Linked DNA regions of Homo sapiens: region 1 is linked to region 2. Evidence: fine-mapped expression QTL. A gene starts in region 2. The other region holds a variant in brackets. All regions are shown on one strand. Distances are between the middles of the regions.

Region 1 (10,167 bases), 46 kb before region 2:
GTTATGGCCACAGTTGTAAGAGGGAGCATCTGCAAGAAATGGAGTGCTCCATCTTGACTGGAAGCAGAAGCATGATCTATATTTGATTTTTAAAAGAAATAAATAGATAACAGGTATGTTGATACTAACAGTGAATTCATTTAAGCAGCTTTCCAGGATATTATAATTTTGTTTGGCCCAACAGTCTACATCTGTCACATGTGTTATGCTATAGTGTGTGACAAAAATTAGTTTTCCAAAGGAGAATATTCTGGAAATAACTTCACAGTATCAAAGAAAATTAAATGATCTTCTCTGTAGTTTTGTGTGGGCATATCAAGATGAACTTAATTCTCTGAACAATGGTAGTTTTCAACTTAACTAGAAACCAAATTCCTAACCAATTTGGCTAAAAGAAATTTTATTACATCTAAAAAAATTTGGAACAGAGTTAGATTATAGACCAAATATGAAGACAGTTTTAAAAATAACAGTGCTGGTGAAAAAGAGCCTTAATACTCACAGATGCAATGTCTTTCTTAAAGTATATGGACGTTATTACGTAGACATCTCCCCTGGGCAAATGAGACAAAAGTATGCTTGACTTTCAGCAAGAGGATGTTACATTAGATTGTTTTCTTTCTTTCTTTAATAGATAAAATTAATATATGCTTCTGGAAAAATATTCAAATAATACCTAAGTAAAAAATGGAAACTGTAATAATTCCTTCCTCCCTTAATCTTCAGTACTCTTCCCATGGTTAAGAGTTTTGGTTTGTTTGGTTAGATTTTTTTTGAAATAGGCTTCAGTAGTCAAAGATTTATGTAAACAGTAGAACTTGAAATCATTCACTCCCTAAAGACTTTGAAAACCAATCATGGCAAATGACTTAGGAAAAGTGGGGAAGAGCTTTCTCTTGGGTCTGTTCCAGCTTTCAATTCGTAAAGAATAAGATGTGGCTACACTTTAAAATATACACAGAAACACACACATTTCACATACTTTTCATCTGAAAGGACCAGTTCAGTGCACCTTCAGCAGTGTGCTTATTTCTGACTTTACTTGGAACCCGGAAGTTGTCTTCTTGGAAGTACAGCATGTGGTACACAGTGAGCATTCAGTGAGTATCTGTTGAACGAACTGTAATTATTTTAAGAGGGAACAACATATTTTTGTCTTCCTCATAAACATGATTCAGGCAGAAAATAATGCAAAAGCTTACAAACATAATCTATTCATCAACTAGCCCTCATAGACTCAGCTCAAAATCCATAAACTATGAAGTCTTGCCCAAGGACCCTCATGAGAAGGGCTCGCTCCCTTTTTCCAGCCCCTCAGGCTTTGTTTAATACCCTTTCGTGCTGCTTAGCACAGATCTTTGTGGTGGCTTGCTGGGTTTAGGTACTATCTAATAGAATGAAAACATTCTCTTGGTGTGCATACACCATCTCATGCACTCTAATATTTCCCACTGTTCCTGCCACAATGTCTTGCATAGAGAAGGCATTCAATAAATATTGATTGAATGAAGAAATTGAATAAACCACATCTTGATTTCAAGGGAACACCAATTTAGCCACCGAATTGGCTTTTTCCTTTTGTTCATATCTACATTTGTATGATAAGCATCACTATTTTGATTATATTTAGTTAGAAAGTATGATGTTTCAAATCAAAGAGTTTATTCATCTGTAATATTTTGCTAAGTTGTTTGCAAAATGAGACACTTGGGACACATTTGAATTTCTACGGTGACAGCAAGCCTTGAATCTCCCAAAGAAATTATTTGAAACCCTTTGTTCAAAATCAGTCGCTGAGATCTGAATGTCTTCTTGGTTAATGCTGAGAATTTAAATAGCGTTCAGGGAGACCAGGAGGGTAAAAGATACTTCATTGGAAATGACACATGCTCTAAGAATAGAGCATTATATTTTCCTATCATGCCACATTTCTTTGTAAAGGTATATTCATTTCACACTTTCAGTGTGGTGATTATGAGATGTTATCTGGACCATTTACATTCACAAATATTTGAGAAAACAAAGAACATCTGTTCATTCTTGGCTGCTGCCTGATACCAGCCTTAAGGTTTTTAAACCCTGTTTATGTGATTGTGACTGAATCAGATGATTTGGAAAGATGTACTCAATCTATCCTTTTGACATTGCAATGAAATAAATGTAGGAAACAGAAACAATAAACCTTTCATTCATGACTGATTCTCTCAGATACACACAAACATATTCCAGGTGAGAAAGTAGGCAAATTTAACATTTAACCTTTCACATTTAGTCAAAATAAGAGTTAGTTTCCAGATAGATCAAGGAAAACTCTGACTACATAAAGATGTAAATTATGGAATAATATTTTAGGGTTTGATATTTAGGCCTGAGGTGTGCACACTTTTAGAAGGACCCAGAACACTGGAGCTGTTCTAATACATAAGGCTTTCTGCCTCATGGGATCACTTTTGCCTTTTCTCTTATCATTTTTGGGGCCCACATCCCTGAGTTGGACAAAATAAACTCAGTATAAAGTTTTGCACTGCCAGGTATGAAAGCAAAGCCTGAGCCCCTTGTAACTGCATTTGTCTGTGATTCTGATTTAGCATTTTCAGTTTTCTATTCAGAAAGAAATGAGAGGGAAGAGGTGTTGTAGGCCACTCCCCCATCACCCTCTTTCTACCCTCATCCCTCTCTCCTCCGCCTCGCCCACTACCTTGAGTCAGCAGCTTAGTGATGCGATCCTTGGGTGGACACCAGAAATGGTCAATTATGCCAATCTAAGAGATCAGCTCAAATTAAAGCTTCAGGGCTCTCCCTCTGAAACTTCAAGAGAGGGGCTCCGGACTCCTTATCATCACTGAACAGGGAACACAGAAAGTAGATGGCTACATACATTGGTGAAGGAATGAGCCCAGTGTGAATCTTTTGTGAAAAATATAAGTAGTGTGCTGTAATATTAAATTCACTAGAATCTCTCACTGGAAAATTGCATGTTTAAAGAGAGTTTGCAAAAACATTAACTGAATAGAGAGCACTTTGCTTGTTCATCCTTAAAGAATGTTCTCACCTTAGGGTTACCCAACCATTGCAGGTATTTCTTTGATGATGTAGTATTTTACTCTGTTCTGTCCTTTGGGTCATGCTCAAGGTTGTTCTGATCACTTTTCAAGGCCCATATCATAGTTTAATGGCTGATTATTTTCTCTTCTCAGTCCTCAAAGGCTGGCTCTTCTCTCTGGAATATCATAAGCCATAGGCCTACTTATTTGGATGGGTGCCAGCATTCACGCACAAGTAACGGCTTAAGAAGGCTTTTCAGTTGTTTTTATTTTGTACGTACAAGTTCTGTAGGTACACAGTGCTAGCTTTAGATAAAGCCTTTGTTATTATTTTTAATTTATGAAATTAAATAAGAGGTGGTTAAGATGAACTGGTTATCTGTAGTCTAAATTAAGAACAATTTTGATAATAAAATAGCTGTAAAGATGTTTTTCTAAAAGAAGTGCTTTCAGACCCTCCACATGAAGACAATGCCTTCAGCAGTATATTCATATGGTTTAGTTTTATGTTTGTGGTAGACCAGTTTTTAAACTACAAGTTTGAAACAGTTCAACAGCTGACTTGGAAACCAGAACCCACCCTCTGAAATACATAAGTGGGATATATAAAGATGGTATAATCCCAAGGGCAGAGCCTGCTCTGAGTTTGACATTCTTTAGTTCCAGCTGTTGACTAGAGATAATTTACTTTATAATAGTAGGACCAAGAAATGCTTTTAATGCAAATTCTTTGCATTGCATGTCTCTCTTTGAAGAACAAGTGGACATTCTTGCAGACTACCAGAATAGGAGGCTGTTTGTCTTTTCTCAGCCCAGCGGCTATAAGTAGATATGGAAGCCAAGGCCTTATGAATTTTATGCCACATTTAGTTTTATTTTAGGGAGGTTACAATATAGAGCTTTACTGTTTTTTCCTAGTTTATCACAATAAACACATACTATATTAATAATGAGGGAAATATTGTTTTAAATTGCCAGTTGTACTTACCATGTTAAGAGGAAAATCAAAATGACATTATAGTTTACAGGTAATGGGTTTTTTTCATTAAGCAATATATGCTATTTATTTATTTATTTATGTTTGAGTCAAGGTCTTGCTTTGCCGCTCAGGCTGCAGTGCAGTGGTGTGATCACAGCTCACTGCAGCCTGGACATCCCAGGCTCAAGCAATCCTTCCACCTTAGCCTCTGGAGTAGCTAGGACCACAGGTGTGCACCACCATGCCCAGCTAATTATGTATTTTTGTAGAGATGGGGGTTTCGTCATGTTGCCCAGACTGGTCTTGAACTCCTGGATTCAAGCAATCCACTTGCCTCGGCCTCCAAAAGTGCTGGGATTACATGCATGAGCCACCACACCTGGCCTATGCTTTCACTGGGATGGAAAAAACTACAGATATATACGCAAGTCATGGCAGACTCTTAGCTACTTGTAAAATGGCCATCCCAATTGTAATTTCAAATGTTCTCCATTGTTCCTACAAATTCATTCTTATCTATCTATTCATTCATTCTTTGTTTTGTCCCACACAAGATTTATGCCAGCTTACAAAGATAGAGAGAAAAATGAAAACTAAATTAGAAGAAAAATAAAAATAAAAAATAGAGATGGGTGTGTAAAACAGATCAAAATGACCTATAATCGCTGTAACAATTGGGCCACATATGTGGTTCTCTAAAATTTTTCTTAGCCAACACCAAAAGTGAAACCTTAGCTGGTCACTAGATTCAGGGAACACAAATCAAAACAAACTAGTTCGTTGGTAGATGTGCTTCTGCCCTTGGTACCAGAGTCAGACAGGGAATTCTCCCAAGGAGGCTTATAAAGAAGATTGTGTCCTATGATGAACATCCATGAAAACATCCTTACAATGTCCTTACAATAGAGATGGTGACCTACTCTTACACAGCCCCTCAACATAGGCTGGTGACATCATATCAAAGAACAGTTGGGGCTGGGCACGGTGGCTCACACCTATAATCCCGCACTTTGGGAGGCCAAGGCAACTGGATCACCTGAGCTCAGGGGTTAGAGACCAGCCTGGGCAACATGGGGAAACCATGTCTCTATGTACAAAAAAATTAAAAACAAAACAAAACAAAGAGAACAGTTGGGTAAAAATGGATTCTACAGCTGGAAGTCTGCCCAGCTTCATCTAGAAACTGACCATGTTGACCATATAC[A/G]CATAGAAAGTGGCAGGATAGTGCCAGCCTCTAGGAAATTCTCAGGAAATGTCAACAATTAGTGTTACCATCACCAATATTGTGTGTCAGATGAGTGCTTGATCTTTGCTGGGGAAGAGATGGGCTCTACATGATGCAGGTGAGTGAAAGCAGCCTGCAGGAGGTTTTCTGAGCTCACAGTTCTTACTACTGATGCACGTCTCCCAGCCCTTCTGCTTGCAGGTCAGGCTTAGATCAGACATTGTCATGGTTGGGCTCTCCAGGAAAGATGGATTTGCTCCAGGTAATACTTGAAACACTGAAACTCCATAAATAAAGTCACTGCCAGTGTGCAGAGCAAGTCAAATCTGAGCTAAGAGTAGTAACTTCCAAGCAGAAACTCATGGGCGTGAGCATTTCATTCTTGACAGACAAACTCCTTTTAAGGAATTTAAAAGGCTATCTAGAAATCCTTTCTGATTCTTTCCCGCTGACGTCACCAGGATAGAGGAGACTGAAAATGTGGTCTTTAGTCTGAGTGCGGTGGCTCACGCCTTTAATCTCAACACTTTGGGAGGCCGAGGCGGGCAGATCACTTGAGGCCAGGAGCTCGAGACCAGCCTGGCCAACATGGTGAAACCCTGTCTCTACTAAAAATACAAAAATTAGCCAGGAATGGTGATGTGTGCCTGTATTCCCAGCTACTCAAGAGGCTGAGGCAGGAGAATAACTTGAAACTTGCAGTGAGCTGAGATTGCCCCACTGCACTCCAGCCTGGGGGACAGAGCAACGCTCTGTCTCAAAAAAAAAAAAAAAAAAAAATGTAGTCACCAGGATCCAGAGAAGCATCTTCCTTCTATGTTCCCTTCTATGTTCTCCCTCCTCCGTGCCCCTTCCTCCTTCCCCTGCCCTCCTTTTCTGAGTCTTATTAAATGGTTCATTACAGTTGGTCCTATCATGTTAGAAGACAGTGACGGCTGGGACCTGCCAAGAACAGAATCCATCTGGGGCCAAATACCCTCTGCCTGGGTTAATCCCCTTGGTGGTTGCATATAAAACACGGGGAAGTATGCTGTGAAGATTAGCCATGCCTCATATATTGGACTCTGAACACCAGGATGTGTGGGGGCCTGCAGCCCTCACCATCATGTCACTTTCTCCTTTCAATGAAAACTGAAACCCAGATCCAGCCAGAGGGCAGTGGGGGTGAACAAATGTGTAGGCAAAGAAAATAGGAATGTTTAGGAAGGCTAGATCCTCCCCCCGGTCTGATCTAAACCGAGGCTCTCCCTCCCCCGGCACACAGAATGCAGGAGGGACAGGAGGTGATGGGGAGGGCTCATGGGGAGGAATTAAGTGTGGCTCTGTCTGTTTCTGGCTTCTCTGTAAATACTGTGACACCTCCGAACGGAGGAACAGCTGAGATAAGTGACTGCTAATCCCCCAGTGCCGGGGAGGAGGCTGGGCCGCTCCCTTCCAGATCCCAGCAGATGGTGGATGAAACAGACTTCCCCCGAGGCAAGGGCAGTGGGAACTGTCCCACCTTCTGTTCCTTCAGTTTGCCCTGCACGTCTCCCTCATGGCCAGTCCACGCCGAAAAGGGCTTCACTGGCCCTCAAGAGCCCTGGGGACCCGCCCCAGCTCTGCCATCCCACTGGGATCTACAAGGTCAGCCAACCTGGACTCCAGCCAGCACTGGCAGCTTGGGCAGCATCCAGCAAAGCTCTGTGGGCTTCAGAGAGAACAGCCAAGCAGTGCGGCTAAGTTTTTCACTCTGCAGAGAAACATACCTAGGGGAGAACAGTGAGGGCTCATTTAAAATGCAGATTCAATCTTCCAGGGTGGAACCCAGGAATCTGAATTTCTATGAGGCAGTCTAGGTAATTTGGCTGGAGGCGGTTCTAGCATCACATTCTGAGAAATAGCAGACCAAGTATATGTGAAGGTATTTTTGGTGGTGGTTGGGAATAGGGCTTAAAATCAGGTGCCTGAGTTTGAATTGTCACTCCACCATTTGCTCACCTGTGTGACCTCAGACAAAAAAGGCTCAGTGGTTCCCTACCTCATAGGATATAAACTGGTCTTTCTCAAACTGCAGGAAGCACAATTTAGTCACAATTAGCAATAAAAAAAATAACACTCGGAGACTGCACAACAATGTGAATGCACTGAACACTTTTGAACTCTGTATTCCTAAATGGTTAAGATAGTAAATTTGATATATGCATATTTTACCATAATTAAAAAAAAATCTAGAATGTACCAAAGAGGAGATGTCATTTTTTTCTTCTTTGTTTTGTAATTTTTTTTGAGATGTCATTTTTATATGCTTAAAAAGCCAATCTCAATTTTCAAATTAAGTGGATCTGTAAAAAGTAGTTTAAATAAAACTCAGTCATGAAATCTTACTTTCCTGTTGGTTTACATTTTAAAATATATAAAATAGGGTTCAAAGTTTTTAAAATGTGGAAATCAAGGCCAGGCTTGGTGGCTCATGCCTGTAATCCCAGCACTTTGGGAAGCTGAGGCTGGCAGATCAGTTGAGCCCAGGAGCTTGAGACCAGCTTAGGCAACATAGTGAAACCCCGTCTCTTCAAAAAATACAAAAATTAGCGGGGTGTGTTGGCATGTGCCTGCAGTCCCAGCTGTTTGGGAGGCTGAGATGGGAGGATCAGCTAAGGTGGGAGAATCGGCTAAGGTGGGAGGATCACCTGAGCCTGGGAGGTTGAGGCTGCAGTGAGCCCTGATTATACCACCGCACCTGATTATACCTGGGTAACAGAGGGAGACCCTGTCTGAAGCAAACAAACAAATACATAAAAATAAAATAAATAAAATGTGGAAATTGAGTGGTAATACAAATAGTAAATATCAAACAATCATAAATTTTTAAGAAATAAGCATTCGTTCTTGCTACACACATAACACATATGAAAATACACTGTTTTGAGTGTTAGGCAATGAAATTGAGCGGAATAGGAAACACATTTTTCAAACATTTTAAGGGTGAATATTGTTTCACAAAACTGCTGTTGTGTCCTGCACTGTTCTACTGGCCTCCCACTAGAGCCAATGGTCCTGAGATGAGGGGGCTGGAAGTGGCCTCCTAGATCCCCGAAGCCTGTGCGAAGGACAAAGGTCAATAATCATGGTTTTCCATTCCTGAGAGTCTTTGCACCTATAGCAGTCATAGTGGGAGTCTCTCACCAGCCACTCCCATGCAGAAACTCTTTCTCTCACACAAATGTTCATAAACTTCAGTTCTGCTCTACTTTTAAAAACGAACAACACATCCTGGGGAAGGCTTTCTCGGCAACTCTTTCAGACCTCCATTCCCTTTTTGTGACTATCCTGCTGATACCTCTTCTTCCCTCCCAGTTTGTGCCATAGCTGTCTGACTTTTCTGTAATTGCCACGGAGGATGAGTCCTGCTCTGTTTTATTTATCACTGAATCCTTAACTAGCACAGTTCTTGTCCTGCAAAGATTTGCTGAATCAATGAAGAATGAAATCAACCTGATTCTTTAAAAGGCAGAGCTACTACTGCCTCCAAAAGTATCATTATTACACATACAATTTGCTTTGTATCTTCCATATTACTTACAGCATTTGTTTCTAACTATTACAATACACAATAACTTCTGCAACAAGTGTTATGGTATCACTTTTGAGAGGGAAAACTTGGGGCTTGGGAAGGTTAAGTGTCTTGCTCAAGACCAAACAGATAGTTAGTAAGTGATAAAGGCAGCATTTGAGCCCAGTTCTGTCTGGCTCTGACACCAGTCCCATTTCTCCTTTTCCTTGGTTTTTCTATATTTTCACGAGACAAGGCAGTTCTACTCTTGGCATCCTGTCAATAAACATTTTCACTGTAAAATGCCTGCTGTGCTGCACAGAGTAATCTCAGCCAGGTCTCTTACCCGACCCCACCACACAGCTGCCCATCGCGTTTCTTCTCCAGACCAACCCAAACATGGTTGGGGAGTTCAGAGGGGAGGGCCCAGCATTCCCCAGTCGGGACAAGTATCTAATCAGCAGGCCTCCTCAGCATATCAGCCCAAGACCACTCTAGAGAGAGATGCCAGTGCCCAGTTTTCTATTTTTAACTGGTGTGAACTGGAGGAAAAACACAAGCATTAAAAATCAAAGCTCCAGTCAAGAACTGAGAATGCAGGGCACCCCAGGGCAAACTAGTGATCTGTGTCCTTCTTACATCTCCCTCTTCCTTCTCCCTCTCCTCATTTCATGTCATTTTTCTTTTTCCTTCTCAAAAGTTCAAGATCCTGCAAAATCTGTTTTCCACAGAGGAGATGATATCTGTCATTTATGCCAATGCTTCTCACACTTTAATGTACATACCAAGCAAATGAGGATCTTGCTGAAAAGCGGATTGGGATGGCTCTTGAGATTGCATTTCTAGCTCATTTCCAGGTTATGACAATACTGCTTGTCCATGGGCTGCACTTTGAGTAGCAAGGATTGGTGTAGTCCTATAGTTTAAGTTGTTGCTATGTTCTCCATCAAAGTATTTGCCTTTGCAGTCTTGTCTCCACCTGGAGTGAGGGCCTCTGCCCCCAGTTTAAAGATGCTCATCTCCCCACCATCAAGTGGGCAAGCTACTTTTGGCATTTGTTCCTTTATTCACTTTGGCAGCAGGGGATCCTTTTCTGGCCTGAAGACCAGAGTCTGAATTTGAGCAAAACCCTGCAGCATGGATGAGGGCTACCCAATAACTGGGCTGGGGTAAACCTGGTCCCTTCTCCAGCAAGACTTGGCCAAGCTCTCACAGAAACCCTTTTCTGACTCTTCCCTGGCCAGACCCTGATCCATGCATGGGTTGGAACTCGGGTGGCCTTGGTTAATCTCAGCTTTCTGACCTAGATGAGCCCAGCACCAGCTCTCTGAGTAAAGCCATTCAGGCTGGCGGGGACTAGACCAGAAGGGTGCCCTGTCCTGGGTGC
Region 2 (9,812 bases):
TAGTTGACAAGAACTAGAAAAATACAAAAGCCTCTGTGCTGAGTAATGCCTGAGCCCCCAGAGTCCCAGCAAAAACAGAAATTAGCTGAATTTCAGGAAGTCAAGATATCAGGCAACCAGGGGAGTCCACGTACAATTATGAGCGCAAGAAGGAACCTTGAATGTAAGCTTCAGATCTTAGAGAAGGTTCTTTTGGGATGAATACCAATTCCTCTTAATAATCTTGGCACCGGGATGGAACCAACTTTTAGCTCTTGTAGCAGTACACTCTGATGTGGAAGAAGAGCAGAAGGGCACATGTGGGAAAAGAAATATATTCTCCCAGCTTAACAATTCTGTCAAGGGCAGGTCCTACCGATGTGCATTTCCCCTGCAATTTCCTCATCTCTTTCATACAGACTAGAAAGGCACTCAGCAGGAAGCCCTGCTATAGCCTGCCTTGCTGGGCCTCTGGCTGGACAGCAACAATGAGAGTGAAGGGAAGGGTGCCTAGACACCAGGCGGGCAGGCTCTTCTGCACTGTAGCTGAATGCTATTCATGGGAATAGCACTGACTTCAAAGAAATCTCTTTGTGCAGGTTTAATGAGCCCCCCTGGGAAGCTCCTGATGTGAATGGGAATCACGACTTGATATAAAAGTGAAAGATTATGTGTCAGCAGGAATGATTTGATTCTTAATGCAGTGTTAATTTATTTGCTGTGATTTCACACATCTGCTTTGGCCACAATACCATATTACATTAATCCCTGAGATATTATTACACATAGGTATATTCTCTATATACGAGGTAGTCGGGGAATGGGGGAATTTGTATATGTAATTTTTTTAAAGGCTATATACTCTTTTATTCAAAGAACTAGCAGGCAGAAGACTTTAGATTTCCTTACCATTTGGATACATAATCTCTTGGGCCTAAGACATGATTTGGCATTTGGGTCCATGAGATGGCAAAATAATTTTGAAGATAGCAGATTCTGGAGAATCTTAGACCACAAAGCAAGCCACTATATTTAGGGCTACTTAAGATTGGTACATCGGACAGCTTTACTCTCTTTGGAAACATTACTTCATAAATTTTGTCTGAACAGCAAAATCAAGTGTTTTCCTAAACATTTGAACTGAGGCTTATACATAGGGAAGGACACATGAAAGAAAAAAAGAGAAAAACCACTTTGCAGCAAATAAAAATAGATTCCATCTGCCACTTAGGTTCTTTTGAGTCTCCCAAGACAGGTTGGGGTTGCCCCTTAAGAAGACAAGTTGATGGTTTCATTAGGAAACAGATGCACGTAGGCCACTGGGAGAGATAAAGCTCAGTTAATCCTAGCTATTTGTGAATGAAATGTAGGAGAGTTCAACACAGAGATCAATTCCAAATCGAATGCAGTCCCTCCCATGCCACACAAATTTCAGGAGGCTACAGATGCTGGTCCTTCCCAATCCAGGACTGAGCTCAGCTAGCTGGGGTTGCCTCTCTGATGCTGCAGCCCAAGCCTTACCTGCTCAGCTGCATTCCCCCGGTCAGTTCAGCGGGTGTCTGGACTGCAGTATTGAGAGAATAATGGAAGTGAGGGCAGGGGGCTGGTGGTTAGTAAGAAGGCTTTCTACTGAGGGGTCCAGGCTATCCTAAGTGTGTAGGAACTTTCACTTCGCAAAGGGAGCCCCTTTCTCCTTTCTGACTTGAATATTACTTGTGATTGTGGAGGACACCCAGGACCCACTTCTCCTCAGGAAAAGTGCAGTTCTGCTAGGCTGAGGGGAATAGAGAGCCAGAATAGCTGACCTTCACTTTCAACAAATGCTTGAGTTTAAAGACGCTATGAAAAGAACCATGACATATGAGCATGCTCTCTGATCTCTAGGAATTTACAGTCCAGTAGAATAGAGGTCAGTAGATTAATGTTCATTCTTACAACATATACAAAGCTCCTATGAGGTTTCATTTACAAAACATTTGAAGCTGCAAGGCTGAAAGGTTCACCTGGGAGTCTGTGGTTGAGAAGAGAATGAAATTTTGAGCACATATAAGGATAAGAACAAATTCAGACACCCCTATGTAGTAAATGGAATCATTGTTAGTAGCTCTACATTCTCTCCTGTATTATAACATTCAACAACACCCTTTGCTCCATGCCTTTGCAGTTTTTCCCACTAGATGTGGATAATATTTCCCTGCTCTGTTAATGGAAAATACTATTTGGTAAGACATAGATTTGCAGATCAACAATCTAGGTATTTTTTTCCTCTAAATGTCTGGAGGTGAGCATGTTCCCACTTTAATTCCCCTTTTCTTCTTCAAATATCACATTTTTTTCATACTTTTAAATAATTTTGATCTTCTCTAGGATTCTGAATACCACATTCTTCATAGCTTTTCCTTTGCTACCCATATGATTTTAGGCAAGCTAGCTAAGCTTTGGGTCAGTTTTAACACTATGAAACAAATGGATGATAGATTTCCTCATCCCTAGGATTCACTCCTGCCCTAATAGTCATGGAACTAAAAGTTCTCAGGTTTTTATTGTTATTGGAGCTGTGGATGAGAACCCGTTAATAACACAGCTACCTCAATCTTGTTTCCATAGATTTCAATTTAGCAGAATTGGGATGGGATCGCAGCATCTGTCTTTTTAATGAAGATCCCCAGACAGTCTGTTGTGCAGCAAAGGTTATTCTATGAGCATTCTACGAATTTCATTGTTTCTCATCCAAAACTATTATTTTAATAAACAGAATGGCTTTTAAATAAGATGTAATGGAAAGAACTTCCCAGCTGCCTTAAACGGGGGTTTTCAATCAGAGGAGAGTTGAGATAATCAGAATCTATCAAGAAGATACAATGCCCTGAGGAAACTGAGAGATGCCCGGATCCACAGAGAACCATTTCACATTTAATGCACATTTGTTTATCGGAACAAATTATTAATTGAAAATGGAGTTGACTGGACTTGAAGGAGGAAGTACAATGTAGTAAGTGTGAAATTTATGAGTGGTTATTAAAAATAAAAATGGTTATTTCTGAAGTGTGGTGGTGAGACTAAGATTTTTATTTAAAAGTAGCCTACACAGTCCAACTGATGAGTTTTAAAATATAGGTTCTATATATATGCGTCTTTGTGCACTTATACACCTATGTTGTTTGCACATGTTTATATGTGGAATCTATATGGCATATTAAAGTATATTTCAAAATAATACACAAATGATCAACAATTCAGTCATAGCGTAGTGTCTGATAATTGCATTTCCTGCAGTCTATGTTCTTAGGATCATAATCTTTAACGGTTTGGGAAAGCCAACACATAAAATGACAATTTTGAGTTGTGCAGCCTATTTTGGGACATTTAAAGATGTTAAACAGATTTCCCTTTGGACTTACTCATTCACTTCTTGGCTAAGATCATTTACTATAAGAGAGTCTGCCAGACAAGGAGGGAATACAGGGACCTAGGGCCAAGGGGAGTAGAAGGGAAACCTGGGAAAACACACCAAGTTTGGGTTAGGGGATCACCATTCCATCTGGAAGCTAACTGGATAATAGGGTATCCATTCGTCCTCACCCTTGAACCTCCTCCGTGTTCAGAAGGAAACTAATAAATCACTTTATCCCTCTCTCCATTGTTAGTGGACTCTTTTACTCCTTTGCAGTGAAAGGCTGCTTTCTTGGGGTAAAGATGTCAACCCTAGCAGAGGATTTCAGTGATCTTTCTGGCGGCGAAGCTTAGACCGTGTGTTTAAACATCATTTTATGAAGAAGTACACTGTGAGTGGACTGAGGGCCATGCCCTGCACCTTTCTTCCCAGTCCCTGGGCCACCAACTACCCAACCACCTCGGTTGTTCCAGAAGTGAAGGCTCACCATGGTGTGGCTTATGTAATATACATATGTGCTATGATCCCTGTGGATAATTAAGGCTAGGTCCCTTTATATGCCTAGGACAAGTTAGCAACCCTTTCAAGGTCGTGTTTTCGAAAGGATGACAATTACTTTCCCATTGGACTTTTGGTACATTTACATCAAACACTGCCAGCTACAGTGTCTCCTAATACTGACCCCTGGGCTAATTAGCAGCTTAGTGAGGTTGTTTCAATTTTTCAGCAACCAATTAAGTAGTTGCTCTAGACAGAACTGACAACACAATGTGAATTTTAAAAACCGGGATCTGCTGGTTGAGGGGAGAAAGCCAAACCCAGTAAGGCAAGTGGGGGCAGGGCGAGGCTGTGAGTGGCTCTGTTTCTGCTAGCAGAATACTGGGTCTTAAATTCAGATTAAATCACAGTTTACCTGACGAGTACCCCGCCCCCCCTTCCCATTAGTAAAATAATAGCAATAATTTAAAAAGAGCCGAGCATCTGGGTTAGTGCAAGGGGAAGCGAGACCTTTAACCATGGCCACCCCACTTGCTCTTTGCGAGGCACCTGTTAGATGCGCTCGTGTGCCCTGACCCCTATACCGAGAGACAGCTCCACACCTGCATTTACCCTTCAGCCTAAATGGATTCCCATCAAGCCTTTCTCACTTCACTGTCGGATCCACAGAGGCACCGAACCGCAGCCACTCTGCAGAAGCACTCTCAGCCACTCTGTCCCCTAAGGGAGATTTAAAAGTGGTCGCCCCCACTCGCCCTCCCTCAGCCAGCATCTCCATCTAGGGAAGGAATTTCAGTTGTCTCCAGGAGGCAAAAAGCGAAAAGGTGAGGGATGCACCGAGAGAAGAGAAGATACCTACTCACTCCCCTCCCCACTCACCCACGCGTCCGCTCCCGGCTCCCCCTCCGCCTGCTTGGGTCTGGCGGTCAGGTGAGGTTACCTGGGCTCCCCGAGAAGCCCCGAGGGGCGCTGCAGTCCTTCCTTTCGAAATCGCCCCGCTCCCCGCCGGGCCTCCAGGACTCTTGCCCCTCTCCCCCCGCGCGCGTCCCCGGCCCCTCGGGCTCCGACGCGCAGCGACAGCCGCACGGCGCGCTCTGCTCCCCTCCGCCGACCTGGCGTGACGCAGGCGGAGACTACTTAAGGGCGGATTAGAGGCGGCGGCCGCGGATCCCCGAGCCCAGCATTCGGCTCCGCGCGCTCGGCCCTGGCCTCGCAGGCTGCCGCGCCGGAGCGCCAGGTGCCCGCTGAAGTAGCAGGAACAGAGCCGGTGTTCGGACCCTCCCCTGGCCCCCAACCTGCGGCGGAGAGCGGCGCTGAGACTTCTCCTGGGCGGGCGAGCGCTGGAGGACCTGCAGGCTGCCACCCCGCCCCGCCCCTCGTCCCGGCGTCCGCGGGATCCAGACCCGAACCCCGGACGGCGCCCGAGGTTCGTGCCCTCTCTCTAGACCGCGCCAACTGCCCCATCGGTCGGGACGCGCTTGGATTTCTTTCCCCATTTCTTCTCTTTTAAGTACAATAAAAGGAAAGGGGGATTCGAGGATTTTTTAAAAAATTGCTTCTTTAATTGGGAGGCAATTCACTCCCATTCTGGAAGTGCGGCCCGGGGAGGGGCCAGGAGCGGGAACGTGCCCGGTGCTGCCCAGTCTTTGTCTGCTGCCTCCGGATGCACAGCGATGGGGGAATGGACCATCTTGGAGAGGCTGCTAGAAGCCGCGGTGCAGCAGCACTCCACTATGATCGGGAGGTAAGGGCGCCAAGCCGGCGGTCAGGGGGCCCCGTCGGGCGGCCCCCGGGAGTCCCTTCTCACACCTGGACTGAGTCTCCCGCTCCAATCCCCAGTCCGTCCTCTGCCTCCTCCCCATCGTCCTAGGTCAAGGCTCCGGTGTTCCCGGCGATGAGGGATTACCCGACGCCCCGCGATGCCCCCCTCCTCTAGCTACTCCTAACCAGCTGCCCATCCCTTCCCCATCAAGCACCACTGGGGCTTCACTCTTCCCACATCAGAAAAGGAGCCGCTGGCTCAGTCTTGGTCCCTCCACTCTCCAGAGTCAGAGCCAATCTCCATTTGGTTCCCTAAATAGAATCTACAAAGAAGGCAGGATTGCATTTGGACAGAAAAGGGCAAATGGGGAGATGGATTTGCTCTTCAGAGCAGATGCCTCTTTTCTCAACAAATAATTACTAAACCAAACTTATTTGGCGGTGTAAACTTACCGAGCCTACACACCCAATTGCCATTTTTGGGTCTGTATCTATATCTATGTCTCTATCTACCTAGCTTTATATATATATGAGTTCAATATATATGAATATATATTCATAGCCATCTGCTTATATAAAGCATTAAATTTAATATTCATGTTGAGAATAAACTAAATATACACATGGAGTAGTTATTTACACACCCTGTGTGTAGACCTCGAAGCATGCACCATCTGTAAAGGTATTCTGTGTGCATTTGCCATATCCAGAGTGAAGGTGTGTTTTGTGTTTCTATACATTCTATATAGAGAGATGAAATCTATCTGTTGCAAGTAGACTATGTCCAGTGTATGGAGATGTGTGTACCTGGGATCTCTATAATATGAAATATTCCCAGCCTACCAGCACTCAGCAGAAAAGGAAGAGACAAAAAGCTTTCCCAGATTCCTAGTTCAGTACCAGCCCGGGATGGACAGCTCCCCAGTCAAAAGACTGGTAAACACCAGCAAAGGGAAGGGAGGAGCAGGGGTTTCCTGTCAGTGACGCAGCCCGTGAGAACCTCTCTCCCTCCCTCTTCCTCCGTTCAGGATCCTGTTGACTGTGGTGGTGATCTTCCGGATCCTCATTGTGGCCATTGTGGGGGAGACGGTGTACGATGATGAGCAGACCATGTTTGTGTGCAACACCCTGCAGCCCGGCTGTAACCAGGCCTGCTATGACCGCGCCTTCCCCATCTCCCACATACGTTACTGGGTCTTCCAGATCATAATGGTGTGTACCCCCAGTCTTTGCTTCATCACCTACTCTGTGCACCAGTCCGCCAAGCAGCGAGAACGCCGCTACTCTACAGTCTTCCTAGCCCTGGACAGAGACCCCCCTGAGTCCATAGGAGGTCCTGGAGGAACTGGGGGTGGGGGCAGTGGTGGGGGCAAACGAGAAGATAAGAAGTTGCAAAATGCTATTGTGAATGGGGTGCTGCAGAACACAGAGAACACCAGTAAGGAGACAGAGCCAGATTGTTTAGAGGTTAAGGAGCTGACTCCACACCCATCAGGTCTACGCACTGCATCAAAATCCAAGCTCAGAAGGCAGGAAGGCATCTCCCGCTTCTACATTATCCAAGTGGTGTTCCGAAATGCCCTGGAAATTGGGTTCCTGGTTGGCCAATATTTTCTCTATGGCTTTAGTGTCCCAGGGTTGTATGAGTGTAACCGCTACCCCTGCATCAAGGAGGTGGAATGTTATGTGTCCCGGCCAACTGAGAAGACTGTCTTTCTAGTGTTCATGTTTGCTGTAAGTGGCATCTGTGTTGTGCTCAACCTGGCTGAACTCAACCACCTGGGATGGCGCAAGATCAAGCTGGCTGTGCGAGGGGCTCAGGCCAAGAGAAAGTCAATCTATGAGATTCGTAACAAGGACCTGCCAAGGGTCAGTGTTCCCAATTTTGGCAGGACTCAGTCCAGTGACTCTGCCTATGTGTGAGAGGGCAGGTTTCATGAAGGTCTGGGGGATGGCAAGGAGCCCCAAGGCAGATGACTGCTCAGACGTGGCTGTATCCACCCTCATTTATGTGACCCTCACCATTAAGATGTAGGATAAGACTGGATAAAAGAAGATTTTGCACCAATGGGAAAGGAGGAAAAGTGGACCCATTTTCACATATCACCTAATTGGTTCTACAGAGACGATTGGGTAGAGTGATGAAATGGATCAATTAGACTTCTTTGGTCCCTTTCTGTTTATGGCCTAGCCTGATCCTGATAACACTGAACTTGCACAGCTACCAAGTAGGACTTAGCCCTGCTGAGCTCTTTATTCTGGTGAATGGTGTGAGTTGAGTACTTCATTGATATAAAATTTGTGACCTATCTCAACCCATCCCTTTATCCTGAGCCATGGGACAAACATCCTTGAGGCACTCTTCATGTATCTCCCCCACCAGCATGCCCCTTTCCCTCAATCCAAAATAGCATGCCAGCTTTTTTTTTTTTTTTTTTTTTTTTTCCAGAATCTGGCCTTACATTAGACCTAATATGTTTTATTTGCAAACTTAGAGGGAATTACATGGGGTGCTTATTGGAGAACGGCCATGGCAGAGGTTTTCATTAGAGCCCCATCTGACTGGCCCTTAGTCGTGATGAAAACCTTAGGAATGTCTCAATATTTCCAGTTTTCTAACTCAAACTGCACTGGTGCTGTTTACTAGGGATGGGGGATGGGTGGGAGGGAGGGAATTGCAATATGCAACTACAACACTTTTGTGAGATTGTTGTTGCACAGTTAGGCACACGGTTACGAGCTTCAGGATATTTCTGCCTTCCAGCTTGTGGACTTTGGTTAACATTAAAAAGATTTTTTTTGGCTAATATCAAGAGTGTCTAGCTGAGCCACAGCATTTGTAACTGGTGTATCTCACTCATTTTCTTACATAGTTTTGTTGTGCAACACAGCTGCACGGTCATTTTGCCATGATTTGAATTTACCTGTGTGCTTACACCAGAGACCTTAATCATCCCATGTCAATCCTGATTTATTATTTTTTCAGTTACTCTTTGAAACACACACACATATACAGACACACATACAAAATTACTGGCTTAAAAGACCTGCAACTAAACACTATTGGCTAACGTGTGTTTACGGTGACTTATTTGAGACATATACCAAAGGTTCAAAAACCTATTGCATTGGACTGTCAATATGTTTTCTTCTTTTTGCTCTTATTTATTTAAGTGCCATACTGTACCTTTCATATCCACTGTGTATTTAGTTAAAATATTGGCCAAGAGAAACATCTGGGTAATGTGCTTTTATGAAGCCCTTTGTTCCCTTTGAATTATCATTATCATTTTTGATTTAGATATGGACATGGTGTAACACACAACTAAGGATTTGTTTAAAATAAAGTTCTTGCCTTTTTTTGTAAAATGGGAAGAGTCTGCACTTTTTGATGGGGGGTATATTTATTTAAATGCATGATCAAAAATGTTATAACAGAAAAACATTGGGGGTAGGAAGTAAGTCATGGTTGAATAGTATTTGAGGAATGACCAATAAAATACAATCAGCCACTAACAGATGAAGAGAGACTTTTCATGGATATTTTCTTCCAAATCAATGCTTTATGAATGTTCATAAGGGAGTGGTGAGATATTCAAATCGTATGATTTATTAGCTCCTTTCCATTTCAGCTCAAAACTTTCCTTACTTGTCTATTTCTTATAACACAAATGTCAATACTACATCATATTAGCCCATTCCAGGAGTGGAATTTTTTTTTCTTTCCACCACATTTTTTTTTCCTGCCATGGATTAATCATTACACTTGGCGAGCATGCTGTTCTTTCCATGATCTCTTCGGGGTCTGATGCTTAACACAATGCTAACCCGGTAGTCAAGCAGATCTCTCTAGACCAGCGCTGCCAGTAGAACTTTCTGTAATGATGAGGATTTCTTCTATTCATGCTGCCCAATGTGGCAACAACTAGCCACATGTGACTACTGAGCTCTTAAAACATGGCTAGTGCAAATCAAGAACAGAATTTCTAATTTTATTTAATTAATTTAAATAGCCAAGTACGGTTAGTTGCTACTCTATTACACAGCACAATTCTAGACTTTTAATCAATCATTTCTTAGTGGGTTCTTCAAAGGAGATTGATCCTTTACTTACATGTCATAAGACATTACTTTTTAGCCACAACATTTTACTCTCATTTTTGGTATTTTCTGCCTACAT

Alleles and levels. Positions count from the first base shown, and alleles are read on the strand shown. Sizes are in standard deviations (SD) of each study's normalised expression.
For the expression in tibial artery of the gene that starts at base 4,949 in region 2, allele G in region 1 goes with a lower level than allele A (small effect, 0.34 SD a copy in GTEx).

The links. PIP is the estimated chance that this variant, and not a neighbour inherited with it, causes the effect.
Region 1: its variant is fine-mapped to the expression of GJD2-DT in tibial artery (GTEx, PIP above 0.99).

The regions. Positions count from the first base shown.
Region 1 is chr15:34,796,092-34,806,258 of GRCh38, reverse strand. The region is part of intron 2 of GJD2-DT (GJD2 divergent transcript); the gene reads right to left. It overlaps LOC107984776 (a long non-coding RNA gene), which reads right to left and starts at 1,182. Exons shown (of 3, transcript XR_001751477.1): 1 at 983-1,182; 2 at 503-554; 3 at 1-76. RefSeq lists an enhancer at 9,092-9,563. The variant A/G (reference allele first, on the strand shown) is at 5,228.
Region 2 is chr15:34,750,221-34,760,032 of GRCh38, reverse strand. GJD2-DT (GJD2 divergent transcript) reads right to left here and starts at 4,949. Exons shown (of 3, transcript NR_120329.1): 1 at 4,812-4,949. GJD2 (gap junction protein delta 2) reads left to right here and starts at 5,035. Exons shown (of 2, transcript NM_020660.3): 1 at 5,035-5,615; 2 at 6,661-9,001. The coding sequence starts at 5,545. The coding sequence ends at 7,555.